3 separate regions of the Homo sapiens genome follow, and regions 2 and 3 are each linked to region 1. The links come from fine-mapping of genetic effects on plasma protein levels. A gene starts in region 1. Each other region holds a variant in brackets. All regions are shown on one strand. Distances are between the middles of the regions. Region 1 holds the start of DPP4 (dipeptidyl peptidase 4). Region 2 overlaps DPP4 (dipeptidyl peptidase 4). Region 3 has its middle 6.6 kb from the start of SLC4A10.

Evidence for each region. PIP is the chance, under the fine-mapping model, that this variant and not a neighbour inherited with it causes the effect. The UK Biobank Pharma Proteomics Project read protein levels with antibody pairs (Olink). The fine-mapping took linkage between variants from a reference panel, not from the people measured, so its PIPs are less certain.
Region 2: its variant is fine-mapped to the plasma level of the DPP4 protein (UK Biobank, PIP above 0.99). The variant lies in the coding sequence of DPP4. If it changes the protein, the assay may bind it differently, which can mimic a change of level.
Region 3: its variant is fine-mapped to the plasma level of the DPP4 protein (UK Biobank, PIP 0.99).

Annotation. Positions count from the first base shown.
Region 1 is chr2:162,073,176-162,075,939 of GRCh38, forward strand. DPP4 (dipeptidyl peptidase 4) reads right to left here and starts at 1,040. Exons shown (of 26, transcript NM_001935.4): 1 at 801-1,040; 2 at 224-311. The coding sequence starts at 806. DPP4-DT (DPP4 divergent transcript) reads left to right here and starts at 1,682. Exons shown (of 3, transcript NR_147697.1): 1 at 1,682-1,760; 2 at 2,303-2,436. RefSeq lists enhancers at 559-758, 1,193-1,890, a silencer at 909-1,168 and a promoter at 1,445-2,764.
Region 2 is chr2:161,991,541-161,994,304 of GRCh38, forward strand. DPP4 (dipeptidyl peptidase 4) reads right to left here. Exons shown (of 26, transcript NM_001935.4): 26 at 705-1,844. The coding sequence ends at 1,743. Among named protein-coding and RNA genes, the nearest start is that of DPP4, 81 kb to the right of the region's middle. The variant C/G (reference allele first, on the strand shown) is at 1,759.
Region 3 is chr2:161,616,470-161,619,233 of GRCh38, forward strand. No RefSeq gene overlaps it. Among named protein-coding and RNA genes, the nearest start is that of SLC4A10, 6.6 kb to the right of the region's middle. The variant C/A (reference allele first, on the strand shown) is at 1,383.

The sequences.
Region 1 (2,764 bases):
AAGACGTGAAAGCCGCAAGAGTTTCAGCCTAAACACTGAAGACCCCGCGAAGTGAATCCAGCTGCTGCTCTACAAGCAGCAACAACAACTGGGAAGCCTTCTCAGCTACACTTCGGGGCACTGGTCCAACCCCACGCAAAATCCCTCGTTTCCCTTAGCGTGGTAAGACGGAGCCTGACCTGAGCTCCAACTGTCCTATCTTTTTCAAATGTTTCAAACTTACTGCCTTTGTTCAGCAGAACCACGGGCACGGTGATGATGGTGACAAGCGCAGCAGCACCCAGCAGTCCCAGAAGAACCTTCCACGGTGTCTGCAAGCCGAGCAGATCAAGTCCAATTAGAGGGAAGCGTGTGGCCCCAGTTTCCGTAGGAGGGTCGGGGCTGCTCCAGAGGCAGCAGGATTTGCAGGTGGGAGTGCGTTAGAAGAGGGAGACCGCGGGCTGGGGGTGGGGGTGGCGTCTGGAGTGCGCCAGTTGGAGTTCTCTAAGGCGGGTGCCCTTGAACTTGTGCCTTCAGAGCACATTAGCGTTGGTTTCTCTACCCCTGCCCGGGTTCGGGCGTGCGTTCTGTGAGTGGCTCTCCGGGACATTCAAAGCTCGACGCCAGGGTCCTAGCAGAAGCCAGGGTCCGAAAGCTAAGCGAGAGCTCTGGGACGTCCCTTCACCTGTCAGAGGGTGGCCTTGGGGCTTCCGCCTAAGGGGAGTCCCTGGTCCGGTTTCGCCAGCTTTTGGGCCATTTGGGGAGTTTGGCGAAGAGGTCCCCACAGCTCGCCCCGGGGACGTACGTGGCGCGGCACTCACCTTCATCGTCGGCGTCTCCTCGGAAGTGAGCGTTCAGAGAAGGAGCGCAGGCAGAAGTCACCGCGGGCGGCGGAGACGCGCGTCCTGCACCGCTGCTCCGGGCGGTGGAGTCACTCGCCGCTGGCAAGTTTCGGCCCCGAGTTAAACATTAGTGAGCGCCGAGCCCGCTGGGTATAAAGGCGCCGCGGGCAGGCTGCAGGGCAGGCGGCGCGGGAGCAGGCGCGCGTGGCGCGGGGCACTGGCATCCCGGCCGGGGGGAGCCCGCGAGGGCCCCCTGAGGGCGGTGTAGGGCGCTGGGCGGCAGCCGGGGCGCAGAGTGCGGGGCCCGGAGGAGCCGTGGGGGAGGGGAAAGGGCGCGCGGCCTCGGATGCGCAGACCCTGGGCCGGCGACTCGGGGACCCTGCTCCCTCTTAGCTAAAAATGACGTCGGCGTTCAGCTCCTCCAACCTCACGTGGACAGGCGAGGGAACCGAGACCCAGAGAGGGCAGGGGACTTTGGCAAACTCACACAGCCCACCGCAGGCAACTGGAACTGAAACCCAGGACTCCGTCTCTTGCCAGTGAAAGTTATGTTAGGAAGCAGTGAGGGGTCTAAAGCAGTATGAAAGGCAAAGAGAAAAGGTGATTGTTCCCTCTTGAATGGCCCTTGGAAGCTGAGTATCTGGATTCACCCTCCCTAGGGAATTTCCCGATTGTCTTGCAGGCTTACACACTCATCAAGATGACAAAAATAATGACAGTAACACTTATGTGGAACTTGACTTTTTCCCAGGTGCTGCTCTAAGCATTTACTGTGTTTGTTTTACAGGAAGGAAGACTGTACACAGAGAATAAATAACTTGGCCAAGCCATTCAGCTAGGAAGTTGTAGATCCTAAATTAAGAGTTCAAGGTCTTAATGGCTACTCTATGCGGCCTCTCATAGTCTTTTCAAGGGTTTTGGAGAAGAATAAAAGATCAGGTATGGCTTCTCCCTCCCCCAGCTCTCTATTGTTCCCTAAAGGATTATTCATTCGTTCATTCATTCCTACATCCTCCCATTTATTCCAGTCATCCACAGATGTTTGAGTGGTTACAATGTGCCAGCCTCCCTTCTAGGTACTGGAGATAAAGTGGGACAAGAGAGGTGAGGTCTGGACCCTTGGCACTTTCACGATAAAATACACAGGTAAACATTTGCCTTTAGGGCCCCCTGTGATTACTTCCACTCTTGCAGATAAGAGGATAAGGCCTCTTCAGCTTGTTCACAGCAGCTGAAAAGCAAAGCCTCTCTGTCAGTAGAGGTAAAAGATTAAGAATGCAGAGTCCGATGGGGCATTACCACATGATTATGAATTAATGCAATTTTCCATCTTTTATTTCCAATCCAGGCATTGCTTTTGAACTCAGTCATCTTTTCCCCCTTGCCCACTAGTTGCTTGTGATACATCAGTATCCTCACTCACCCCCAACTCCAGAGGCTGAAACTAACTCTCCTCCTCCCTCTTCCAACTGCTGAGGAAGATGAGTCAATGGTGTTACTGGACCCTGTGAACTGATGCTGTGAAGAGAGGCCATTTAACACGGACTACGGGGAATGGTGCCACAGGGGGCTCAGTGCTGCCCTTCACTCTCAGCATTTTGCTCACTCAGCATTGGTAAGCCACATCAGCCTCGGTGAAGGAAGTCTGGAGAGTTAAGCCTGTGCTTCATCTCCATGCCAGCACCATGGCACTCATTGTACATTCAGCAAGCCCCAAGGAAGCTGGCAGGAGGCTGGCTGACATCTACGGGACAGGTCAATTTGTTCTCTGGAGGGCACTCCATGAGACGCAAATATCTTCACACCCTGTGCCCATTTCAAGAGACTCTCTCACATGCCTCCCCCACCTTGACCTCTGTGTCACCAGTCTTTCAATCTTGTTTTTTCCAAATCCTTAAGGTAGCAGCTGGCCAACACATTAGCCACCACTGATGAGTCAGTGT
Region 2 (2,764 bases), 82 kb before region 1:
ACGGAGTCTCATTCTGTAGCCCAGGCTGGAGTACAGTGGTGTGATCTCGGCTCACTGCAACTTCCGCCTCCCGGGTTCACACCATTCTCCTGCCTCAGTGTCCCCAGTAGGTGGGACTACAGGCGCCCGCCACGATGCCTAGCTAATTTTTTGTATTTTTAGTAGAGATGGGGTTTCACTGTGTTAGCCAGGATGATCTCGATCTCCTGACCTCGTGATCTGCCTGCCTCAGCCTCCCAAAGGGCTGAGATTACAGGCGTGAGCCACCATGCCTGGCCACTTTCATTTTTATAGTAATGTCAACCACAAATAGTCAACCACTTAAATAATTGACTACTTCTACTGAGCCATAAGAACTGCCAGAATGATATTTCTGATCTTATTCGTTCTTATATAAGCCTCATCATAGTTCCCTGGAATAAAATTATAAATTGTGTATGATATAAGTAACTAAAATTAGTTTAAGTTGATTTCTCAAAAGCTGTATGTATTTATGATAAGAGAAATTGCACATTATTAGGCAAAAACCTATGAACTGTTTAGCTTAACACATTTTTATATATCTAATTTTTTTACCAAAGCTGAACTCTTTCCATGTTTACAAGGTAGTCTGGGATTACTAACAAAATAAACAAGAGCCTTTCTAGATAAATGTGTCCATATGCCAGTGCGGTTTAGGTCTTATTCAAGACACAAGTCATTACTTCTGAAAAAATGAAGGCACATTTATTAAATGACTGGGAGAAATTCCATAGTATGTAGAATGGGAATAATAATACATAACATTGTATTTTATGTTCCATTTTTTAAAATGAGTCCAAGGAAGTTAAAATATTCTTTTAATTAAGACACTCAAAGAAATGAAATAAGAAAAATTGATGCAAGGACTCCTTCAAGTTAAGATTTGTGATACAAATATTTTCATCTTTTAACAGGGCAAGCTGATGTGTTCACATCTCAGTTTCAAGCTGCCTCTTTCACTAGGAACATCAGTATTTTTTTTTAAAAGCACATTTACAATGCTTTCCCATCACCCTTGCTGTGTTTTTGTAGCACCTATAGCCATAACTGGCACCTGGGGGCCTGCGTTGCTGGCAGTTTCCCTTACATTTCTTTGGAGTCTTTTCAACTGCTGTGGTTTTACTTAGAAGTCAGTGCTTTGCATATTTGATTTCCTGAGACTGTTTGAATAGTCTTTCTCAGAAAACTGTGCCAGTCTGGCTGTGAACAGCTCTTCTCCGAGGGGAGCTGACAGTAGCCTGCTCGTGTTGGTATGCTTGGACTTGGGTTCCCAGCCATGCCCTGCTATCTTCTCTCCCTAATCCCTCTTATCCTGTCCCTGCCCTAGTGACATCACTGCCCACATCTTGCCATCCCTTTAAAGAAGAGAACAACATTTGAACCAGTCCAGTTAGAAAAAGATTAAAATCCTGCTCAGGGAATCTATGCAAAGCCTCCATAAAAACAATTCCTATTTGTTGTTTCAGCAGCTGATGCAGAAATGATTTTAAACAATAAAACCCGACCGGATAATTCAAACTTCTGTAAGGTAATAATCTGTTGTGAAGACAGAAGTCCCTACTTAAGATGATAGGTATGAAATTTGGGAACAAAGGTAACCTTAAGTTTCTTGATTTGAGTGTGTATTTTAAAGATCATCATCATCTTGACAGTGCAGTTTTGAGATAATGAAAACAAAAATGAGTTTTAATAAGCTTTAAATGGCATGGTATTTTGAGGTGCTAAGGTAAAGAGAAA[C/G]ATTGTTTTATGAAGTGGCTCATGTGGGTATATATATGTTGGTGTGCTGTGCTGCTAGCTATTCCATGGTCTTCATCAGTATACCACTAGAGAGAGAAAGAAAAGAAGTTAGAATTAGGAAGTCAGTACTCTTCTTAAAAAAAAAAATACGTAAATTCAAATGAGCTCTCACGAGCATACATGGTATAAAACAGAGTGTTTTAATTCCTGAGGCAGTTTATAAACTGAAACGGGGTCAAAGAGGGGGTCTAATTTTCCCCCAGAGCTTTTCCAGGGCACGTTGTTCTGTCCTGCAGAAGTCTCTGATCCTCTTTTGCAGGTGCTGAGAGAACTCACTGTGAATTTGGCTTTATTGAATAGTGCTTTAAAGATACGTACATTTTAATTAAAACACCCAATCCATTTCCAAATTTGACTCAAAGGGCGCTTACACAGCATGCATGGGAAGGAATGATTATCCCATTAAGCCCACTTGTTTTAATTAAACTGTTATCAAGTGTTAAATTTCTCTGTACTCTAGTAAGATAAACTGTATTAAACTAAATGATTTTTTTTAAAGCAATATTGCCTAATATATAGCACCTAGAAACTGGAAAAACTCTATTTCAATATTACATATATATGTTTAATAGAAGTGAAGTCAAAAATCAGATGTATTATTTGTAAACACTTAGATTTTAAACTGGTATTTTAAGAAATCTGTGTATTTGACATTTATGTAAAAGGAATTAATGATCTGGGACAAAAATTTATTGATTCATACCTTGTTAAATAATTGGGAAGTCATTACCGGGCAAACATAAATTATGGAGACATAAGTTAACTTTAAAAAAAGCTTAATTAAAGTAGCATTTGTCTTTTCTTTGAATAGTAGAAAAATAAACTTCAACCTCTTATAAAACACTGACCCAAAAGATAGCCAGTTTTTCTCAGTATCAAGTAACTGTCCCACTCCTGTGCATTGGGCACCATTTGAACTGAGCACAGAGCAAATCATGTGTGTTAG
Region 3 (2,764 bases), 460 kb before region 1:
AAAGAACTTCCCTATCACCTATAAAATAAAGCCAATCTCCTGAGTATGGCAAATACGGAATTTTGTAATCTGGTCCTTGCCCTCATGTTCATCCTTCATTCCTGCCACATCCTTTGATATATCCAGTGTTTCAGTTATAGACAACTTTTTATAGTTCTTGAGCAAGCTATTCTTCCTTTCCGGAATACTTCTATTCTTCCCTATAATCCATTTTATACATTTATTACAGTAGTTATCATATGAACTATTAAATAAATGTTTGTCTTTTTCCACTTCCAAGTACTATCTTTTACACTAAGTCAGAGTTTATTGGAATTTTGTGAATTGTCTTCTCTGAAGGAGAGACAGTGGCAGACTTGGAGAAAGCAGTGTTATGTCTTATTTGGCCAAAGAAAGACTAAAACCACCTGGCTCAGGAGATTACCACCGTAGGATTTCTCACCCTGACACAGTAGTTATCAGCCCAATTATTTTCTGTTAAGAAATGGGATCCTATGCATCTTCCTCAGTGTTTTCTGAATGAGCTGGAAGAAGCCTAAACATGAGGCAGCATTTACATGAATCATTGTTGATAGAAATACTTTATTTCTGGCTTGACAAGTTTCATTCTTTTAAAAATGTCTGGCCATAGTACCAACACTGAGTTTGGATCTGGTGTTCTTATTCTTCTTTGTGGTAATTAGAATTGGAGAAAACATTTCACTGGCAACCTTTACAAGTTAGAGATCAGTTATAGCATGATGCAAAAAGTAAGTGCGTTGGAGGCAGATAGCCTGGGTTGGGATTTCTGCTGCTTATAGCTGTGTGAAGTTCAGCAAGTTATTTAACTTCACTCAGCTTCAGTTTCTTCATATATAAATGGAGGTAAAATGCATACTTCTCAGGGTTGATATGAGTGGTAAATTAAATAATTATATAAAAGATTTGGCACATACCTGACATGTAATAAACACTAAGTAAATGGTAGGTTTCATTTTTAAACAGTGGATGGCACATTGTCCTAATAATCCTAATATAGTGTTACATGTTTTCTTCTAAATAATTGTAAATATTTAAGCCAAGTGTGTGTGTTTTTCTTTTGAGGAAGAGTTGTAGTTAGAGAATGGAAAATATGTATATCAAATTTGGAATAGGTGATGCATAGGCACTTCTATCAGAATATCTTGTGAAAAATACAGAATCCTTATCCTCACCCCAATTTACTAGGTTAGGATCTTTGGATATGGGACCTAGGAATAAAAAATTTTCAGAAGCATCTAAGGTTATTCTAAAACACCTCAGGTTATTCTGATAAACTCTTCTGTATGTTTTAAAGTTTATCTCAGATATGATGTCCATTGGGAAGTCTTCTCTAATATCCCCTATAAAATAAAACCAATCTC[C/A]TGAGTATGGCAAATACGGAATTTTGTAATCTGGTCCTTGCCCTCATGTTCATCCTTCTTTCCTGCCACATCCTTTGATATATCCAGTGTTTCAGTTACAGACAACTTTTTATAGTTCTTGAACATGCTATTCTTCCTTTCTGGAATACTTTTATTCTTCCCTATAATCCATTTTATATCTTTATACCTCCACCCTAGTCTGGAACAGGTGCCCCTTCTATTTCTGTCACATACCTGTCATATTTAAGGTATATGTCTTGGACATGTCTGATTGTTTGTCTCCCTTCCAGACTATCAGATCCCTGGGGCAGGGACTTTGCCTTTCTAGTGCCTTGCATAGTACTGAGCCCATAGGAGGTATTCAGTAAATATATATCAAATGAATAAACAAGTTTTTGTGCATCTTCCTGGATGTATGAGATTATGTTTCTGAAAAGTATCATTTAATTCAAACACATATGGAAATCAATTTTCTCAGAGAAATAAAAGCAAATTTCAGTTATTTTGTTTTTTACTATTTTATTAATATTGAATTAAGATAATATTTTTAAAATCTTAATTAAGTTTCCCCATACATTTATTTAAGTGCCTTGTATTTCTTCATTTAGTCATTGGTTTTTCATATTTCAGGATGTATCCATCCTGAATGGATGCAGCAGACAATCTGGCTTTAAGTTTCAGAAGCCTTAATCTAGTTGGACACAGTTTCCAAATGATAGCATTGTGAGAAAAGATGAAGAGCCAGGCTGTCCATATCAAAAGATTCTCCAGAATGGAGGAAAGGAAGAATTGGAAGTAGTAAGAACTTCATGTGTCAATGTGTAACCTTAAGAAAGGGCTATGTGCTTTTTCCACTAACTGAGCCCTAGTTTGGGTTTTGGAAGAGAGAAAATAACAGGTAATTCAGTTAGGTTTACAGAATTTGAAAGAAAAGACAACTTGTGTCCCATTCCTGATTAGAGGGTTTGAAAGTTTCTCTCATTCCTGATGCAGGCTGGGAGAAGTAGGATAGACATATTCGTATAGTAATAAAGGATCAAATCTAAGAGGTTATTTGGGTATCATATTTTTCTAGTAAGGACTTTCATTTCCTATATGCAACATAATTCCATTGCTTTAAATGTGATGGAAATAATAAATATAAAAGAATATCATTCCCCACTCCCAGAATTGTTAAAAGAAGTCTATAATGAAACATGCTGAAATGTTAACAGTGACCATCTCTGGTTGGTGGGATTATGAATGACTGTCATTTGCATCTTTATACTGCTCTGAATTTTGAAAAGTTTCCATAATGAAAGGGCTTTTTCACTTGGGTTTGCCATTACTCATCCTTTAGTTTATGTTTCATCTCCCTGATTTACAAACTCATTAGTTGGGAT